Homo sapiens: one gene and its partner. The protein of the gene in region 1 purifies or fractionates together with the protein of each later gene. This does not show direct contact. Each region holds a gene or a part of one and is shown on either strand. Other genes may lie near its edges.

The links. Proteins that work in one complex are often made in the same cells at the same time.
Region 2: the proteins of USP13 (region 1) and SMC3 purify together in Homo sapiens (affinity purification with mass spectrometry; 4 studies listed by BioGRID and IntAct, with this or other methods). This does not show direct contact.

What each region holds. Positions count from the first base shown.
Region 1 is NC_000003.12:179,651,035-179,654,783, reverse strand, and holds the start of USP13 (ubiquitin carboxyl-terminal hydrolase 13), read right to left. Parts: upstream 1,745-3,749; 5' UTR 1,559-1,744; coding exon 1,391-1,558; intron 1,127-1,390; exon of another isoform or gene 1,112-1,126; coding exon of another isoform or gene 1,034-1,111; intron 1-1,033. UniProt on the Homo sapiens protein: Deubiquitinase that mediates deubiquitination of target proteins such as BECN1, MITF, SKP2 and USP10 and is involved in various processes such as autophagy, endoplasmic reticulum-associated degradation (ERAD), cell cycle progression or DNA damage response.
Region 2 is NC_000010.11:110,584,647-110,588,395, reverse strand, and holds part of SMC3 (structural maintenance of chromosomes protein 3), read right to left. Parts: intron 1-3,749. UniProt on the Homo sapiens protein: Central component of cohesin, a complex required for chromosome cohesion during the cell cycle. The cohesin complex may form a large proteinaceous ring within which sister chromatids can be trapped.

The DNA of each region.
Region 1 (3,749 bases):
ACAGATAATAAAGGAAACTTTGGAAATGTTGCCGCTCATTTGGACTTTTCTTTTCCCCTCTGACAATAGTCCACATGCTATGAATAAAATACATTAGACCATTGCGAGACCTGCCTCGGTCCATCCAATCCATGCGCCTCCCAATGCATTGAGATCTGCCGGGTGACATATGAGATCTAAAGTGGGTGGATAAAAATAACCTGGTCCTCAAAAAGACATGATAAACGCCAGACAGCTGAGTCACTTTGAAGCCCATTTTGACTTTTGAAAGGGACATTCACCCTCCTGCTGCTTCTCACACATTCACATAGAACCAGGTGAAAACCACCACCAACCGCCCCGGGTGGAAGGCGGCGATCCCTCTCAGCTTCCTCCTCATTCTCCGAGGTCACGACTCGGGATTGAACTTTTAATAATTTATACTTGCGCATGTCAGTCCAAGTGACTCATTTAGAAGGGCAAGGTGGGGAAGGCTTAAGAAAACCATCGCAATCCAGTAGATCCCCTATTTCTGCTGCCCGAGTGGAGGCACCGGAAGGTTTCGTCTGACATTTTTTTTTTTTTTTTTTTGAGACGGAGTCTCGCTCTGTCGCCCAGGCTGGAGGGCAGTGGCGCGATCTCGGCCCACTACAGCCTCCTCCTTCCCGGTTCAAGCGATTCTCAAGCCTCAGCCTCCCGAGTAGCTGGGACTACAGGCTCCCGCCACCGCGCCCGGCTAATTTTGGGGTTCTTTTTTAGTAGAGATGGGGTTTCGCCATATTAGCCAGGCTGGTCTCGAACTCCTGACCTCAAACGATCCGCCCGCCTCCGCCTCTTAAAAAGTGCTAGGATTTCAGACGTGAGCCACCGCGCCTGGCCCTGACATTCTAAAGACAAGAAAAGGAGTGGGGTGAAATGGGAACTGGTGGAAGAAAAGCTCAGAGAGCAAATCAGAATTGTCCAGAAGTGGGGATCCCTGAGCAAAGCAAGTGGTCCCAGAAAAAGAAGGGCTGTGTGTGTCCCGGGGTGTGGGGGGATCATCCCGTCCACCTACCCGCCCTGCGCTCTGCCCCGCGGAGGACGCAAACGATCTGCAACGTGCAGTTCGGAACAGGGAACTCTTGTATTTCATCTATCTTTAAACGGCGGCGGGGCTGTGTGCAAGCTGCTGGGAATCGGGCCCTTCCAGCCTGGGGAGGCTGGCGGAGCAAAACCACCAGCACGAGCCAGTCCTCGGCTGCAGCAGCCCTGGGGCGCTCACTAAGTGTCTGCCGAACTGCAGTGTTCCTGAGCCAACTCTGCCGCCCGGAGGAAGAGAAGAGGTCCCGGCCGCCACTGCGCATCTTCTCCCCCGGCTTCACGTGCCGCAGGCCGCCGGCCCCGCGACCCTCCCCCGAGGCGCCTCACTTACGGGAGAGTCGTAGGAGAAGGCGCACTCGTTCTTGTAGACCCTGTCGCCGGACCTGGGCACGCGGATCGTGGGCATGTGGGGCACTAGCAGCTCGCCGATGTCTCCTGCAGCCATCTTCCTGCCTCCGCTGCCGCCCGGCATGCCGAACAGGGCGCCCCGGCGCTGCATGGCCTCGGCGCGCACCGGAGCCGAGCGAGCCGAGCCGGAGCCGGAGCGCGGGGTCTGCCGGCGGCGGCGGCGCCAGCGAGCGGGCTGACGGGCGGGCTGCGCGGGCAACGGCAGCCGGCCGAGCCGGGGCGGGCGGGGAGAGCGGGCTGCGGGGCGGGAGCGGGCACCGCGGGCTTGGGGCGGACTGGCGACGCTATTTTTAATCCAATGGCGAGTCTCCGGCCCAGCTGCAGCGTCAGGCGGGGCTGGGGAGCGCCAGCCGCAGCGTGCCGGGGAGGGGGCGCTGGAGAGGGGCCCTGCGCGTGGGCCGGGCGCGGCGGCGGGGGGCGGAGGGCGAACCCCTGAGGCGTTGGCGCGGGAGCTCGAGCGGGCTGGCGGCCGAACGCGGCGCGGGAGGGCCCCGGGAAAACACCACGGAGGTGTTTTCTATCCCGAATTGTTGGCTTGCAGAGGGGCAACTCCGAGGAGGCCAACACAAAGAGCAGGATTGGGGGTTTTAAAAACCGCTTGCTTTTAAAACAGCCGAAGACTAGGGCGGTGACGTCCCCGGATTGGATAGGGGCGGGACTCGATGTGCAAATCTGAAATCTAACGTGAGGCTTAAATCTAAATTTGCGCCATGCACTTCAGTGCTTCCCCACTAAGCTTCGTTCCTTACTTTAACATCCAAGGCTCAAAAATAGAGCGAATAGAATAAGATCGAGTGAGGATAGAGGGTGTGTGTGTGGGGGAGGGCGGGGTGTGTGTGGGAGTGTGTGTGTAATAATAATACAGGTTTTCTTACATATTGGGGGAAGTCAGGGATGGTCAAGATTTTTTCAGGGCGTCGGAAGGCTTTCTATTTTTCTCTGCCTTTGGAGTATCTTCTATGTGATTCAAAGTTCTCATGTCGAACATTCAGTGGCCTGATTTGAGGATTTTGTAGGCAGGCATACATATTCCTGTCTTGATCATCAGTTCCTCAAAATAAATGATGAATGGGGTTGGCCTCGGGGGTTGATCATTTGCAAGCAGAGCATGTCTCCCAGCATACTCTCATTCTCTCCAAAAAACCCACAAGACGGGTTCAATGACATTGAGGTTCTCTAACTACACCCAACATATGTATTCATGACAGAGTATCCAGTGATCCCTGCCAGTTAATGAAATGCAGAAATAGCGAGAAATAGTGAACCAAAACGCTAATTTTTGTAAGCCTCTCTCAGATCAGATAGTCCTTAAGTTCTTTTTTTTTTCTTACTTTTTTTCTCTTTTAACTCTCCCTGGTTCTCCAGACCTATCTCAAGATTTCCATACCCTCAAGCAAGCCTCGAGCGCACCACACTTTCTTATAACTCAGCACTCCCAAATGCTATCTGTTGGAAAAGGAGGAGGTGGCACTGAGCAAAAAATCAGACACTACTGTCATCTTCCTCATTGGGCAGATCCTCTCAGCGAGCTTTTGCTTTGAATTTAGTCTCATCAGCTTATTACCTTTCACGTTAATGGATGATGTTTTCTCCAATTACAGAGATAAACTTGGTTTTACAAAACTTAAAATTTAATCTTAGATTAAATACAAATTAAATCAGTGAGACACTGTTTTTCATCCTTTGGGCTGGTAAAGATATATTGAGTTAGCATGGGTTTGGGAAGTAGACCCTCATTACATTGTTGGTGGGGATAAAAACGATAAACCTCTTTGGAAGGAAATGTAATAATACCAGTCATAACTTTATATGTGCATACTGTTTTCCCCAGCATTTCCTTGTCTAGACATTTATGCAACAGATAAATTAAGGCTGTGTAAAGATATTTGTTAGAGCACTGTTTCGAGTAACAAACGTCTGGGGAAAACCTAAAGATCCTTCTGTAGAAAGTGGTTAAAATACAGTACCATTGAAAAGAATGAAGTTGCTCTACGTGTGCTGATGTGGAACAATCTCCAAATTATTACTAGATGATAAAAGCAATTTAAGCAAACTAGTGTATAAAAGCAAGGAATACATGCAAGGCTGATAATATGCAGTAGGCATTTTGGCACATCCTATATACCATGGGCCTTCATTCCAGTTGGTTGTACTTGTAGTAAATATTTTTAATGTAGCCCCTTAAAATATACATATGTGTATGCATGCCCACTTGTTTGGCTTTAGGATGTCTCTAGAGCAATACACAAGAAACTAGTCAGGCTCTGTGGAGAAGAACTGAA
Region 2 (3,749 bases), on another chromosome or scaffold:
GTAACACTGACTTTTTGTCCAAAATTTTAATGGACAAAAGTCAATGTTACTACTAATTCCACTGACAAAAAGTCAATGTTACTACTGAGTCACAAAATCTTAGATTGGCCGGGCGCGGTGGCTCACACCTGTAATCCCAGCACTTTGGGAGGCCGAGGTGGGCAGCTCATGAAGTCAAGAGATGGAGACCATCCTGGGCAACATCGTGAAACCCCGTCTCTACTGAAAATACAAAAATTAGCCAGGCGTGATGGCACACGCCTGTAGTCCCAGCTACTGGGGGAGGCTGAGGCAGGAGAATCACTTGAACCCAGGATGGGGAGGTTGCAGTGAGCTGAGATTGTGTCACTGCACTCCAACCTGGTGACACAGCGAGACTCTGTCTCAAAAAATCTTGGATAATCAGAATGACTTTTAACATCTTGGATAATTAAACCCTTTAATTCTACACATAAGGAATTTGGGACTCAGTGGTATCTGAAACCATAAAAGAGTTAACAAATTCCCTAGGTAAAATTTAACTTTTCTGCAGCAATTACTTAATTCATCCCCAGGCTATCTGAACACATGCTAAAAGAAGAGTATAAACCTTGAAGAGTCAGTTTTCCTAAATTAATGTTTCAACTTTTACAGTCCTAAACAATTCAGACTGTTGTGTTATTAACTAGCATTACAGCTTACAATATTTCTTTTTTTTTTTTTTTTTCTTTGAGACGGAGTCTCGCTCTGTCGTCCAGGCTGGAGTGCAGTGGTGCAATCTTGGCTCACTGCAAGCTCTGCCTCCCAGGTTCACGCCATTCTCCTGCCTCAGCCCCCCGAGTAGCTGGCACTACAGGCGCCCGCCACCACGCCCAGCTAATTTTTTATATTTTTTAGTAGAGATGTGGTTTCACCGTGTTAGCCAGGATGGATGGTCTCGATCTCCTGACCTCGTGATCCGTCCACCTCGGCCTCCCAAAGTGCTGGGATTACAGGCGTAAGCCACTGCGCCTGGCAGCTTACAGTATTTCTTAAGTCCTACATACTTTGTTTTTTTCCAGGTGTATCTGAACACTAATGGTTCCCTTTCTGACACCATGATGCTACTCAGAACCAGTAATAAAGTAAGCTACCTATATTAAATTCAAAATATAATGTTTTGTAGACTTTATTAAATGCATTACAACCTGGAAAAGAGAAAACATTTAGTTTGCACTGAAACTATCTAAGAGCTTCCCCTTCTCCACAGCAGTTGCTACGGCCAAGATACCACTGACATAAGTTAGAAAAGTCTAAAAACTTAAGTTTGATAAGTATGTAGGATATGTATCACATAAATGAACTGTAATAAAGCATAATAAAACCACCAAAAAGACATTTTATTTTTCATACTGCAGGTTTTAAAAATACACTGTGGAAAAATTAATTTAGGATTATACCAAGAGGCAAAAGCCTATTTACACCGGGCGCGGTGGCTCACGCCTGTAATCCCAGCACTTTGGGAGGCTCAGGTGGGCGGATCACCTGAGGTCAGGAGTTCGAGAACAGCCTGACCAACATGGTGAAACCCTGTCTCTACTAAAATACAAAAATTAGCCGGGAGCAGTGGCGGGCGCCTGTAATCTCAGCTACATGGGAGGCTGAGGTAGGAGAATCGCTTGAACCCAGGAGGCAGAAGTTGCAGTGAGCCAAGATCGCACCATTGCACTCCAGCCTGGCAACAGAGTGGGGCTGTCTCAAAAAAAAGGCTATTTACATAACAAAATCAGCGCCATAAAATCATCTCTGTCCAAAGGAAAGGCTTCATCTTTACAAGTGGTCATTCTGATAACCAAAAGTGTGGCTGGAATACTGGAAAATAATGAACTTCAAGCATGACAAAAAATGAATAAATTCTCTCACTGGAGGCACCTTCAAAAAGGGCATCTGCTGAGGTTGGTTTCATAAACTCAAGAGAAAACTCATTTTATTTCAAGAAAGGAGGTGTTAACTATCAGTTCAGACTATACTAACCATATAAAGAACTGCCTGGATTAACCCAACTTTTCCACTCCTTCCACAAAGTATCACAACTAAAACCCACAGCACGACTGGACTTCCAAAAACAGCAGGCTACACTCCTCGCAATTTTACCTACCTATTGTTTATGCCTACAGAGGCTGTTGTGTTTTCTCCCCACTATATATTTTTTTCTTTATGTAAAGTGAGAATATGAGTACAAAGTAAACAGCTCTTTCTTTAAAACTTCACTGAGGTTTTGGATACATTTAAAGGTGAGTCACCAAAAACTTAAAGTGGGCAAATCACTATAACAGATTAGGGGCCAGGCATGGTGGCTCACACCTATAATCCCAGCACTTTGGGAGGCCGAGGCAGGCAGGTCACAAGGTCAAGAGATCAAGACCATCCTGGCTAACACAGTGAAACGCCATTCTACTAAAAATACAAAAAATTAGCCAGGCGTGGTGGCATGTGCCTGTGGTCCCAGCTACTTGGGAGGCTGACGCAGGAGAATTGCTTGAACCCGGGAAGCGGAGGGTGCAGTGAGCCGAGATCGCGCCACTGCACTCCAGCCTGGGCGACAGAGCAACACTCCATCTCCAAAAAAAAGAGATTAGGGACAAATAATTATATATAATATACAATTAATAAGTACATAAATATTAATATATGTACTTTATAACAAATAATTTAAAATGTCAAGTCCCAAAAGTCAAGAAAAAACTGAAGAACTGGTCCAGATTAAAGCAGATAAAAGAAACATGACAACTAAATGTAACATAAGATGCTGGAATACCAAAAAATGAAGTTTTAAAAAAAAAAAATTACACCGGGCATGGTGGCTCACGCCTGCAATCCCAGCACTTAGGAAGGCTGAGGTGGGTGGATCTCGAGGTCAGGAGTTCAAGACCAGCCTGGCCAAGATGGTGAAACCCCACCTCTACTAAAAATACAAAAAAATTAGCCGGGCGTGGTGGCAGGCACCTGTAATCCCAGCCACTCGGGAGGCTGAGGCAGAGAATTGCTTGAACTCAGGAGGTGGAGGTTGCAGTGAGCTGAGATCATGCCACTGCACTCCAGACTGGGTGACACAGTGAGACTCGTATTAAAAAAAAAAAAAAAAAATTGTTACTATCAGCTGGGCACGGTGGCTCACGCCTGTAACCCCAGCACTTTGGGAGGCTGAGGCAGGCAGATCACCTGAGGTTGGGAGTTTGAGAGCAGCCTGACCAACATGGAGAAACCCCATCTCTACTAAAAATACAAAATTAGCTGGGCTTGGTGGTGCATGCCTGTAATCCCAGCTACTCAGGAGGCTGAGGTTGCAGTGAGCCGAAATTGCGCCATTGCACTCTAGCCTGGGCAACAAGAGCCAAACTCCATCTCAAAAAAAAAAAGTTACCAACAAGCTATTTTAGACATATGTTGTGACATCTTGTTAAATTAAGGGTATGTAAGACACATGCTACCAATTCATAAAAACATATTTTAAGCTGGGCACAGTGGCTCATGCCTCTAATCCCACCACTTTGGGAGGCCAAGGTCGGAGGATTGCTTAAGCCCAAGATTTCGAGACCAGCCTAGGCTACATGGCAAGACCTCGTCTCTACAAAAAAATAAATAAAAATTTTGCTGGGCCTGGTGATACATGCCTGTGGTCCCAGTTAGGAGGCTAAGGATGGAGGATCGCTGAGCCTGGAAGGTGGAGGCTGCAGTGAGTTGTGTTTGTACCACTGCACTCCAGATTGGGTGACAGAACAAGACCCTAT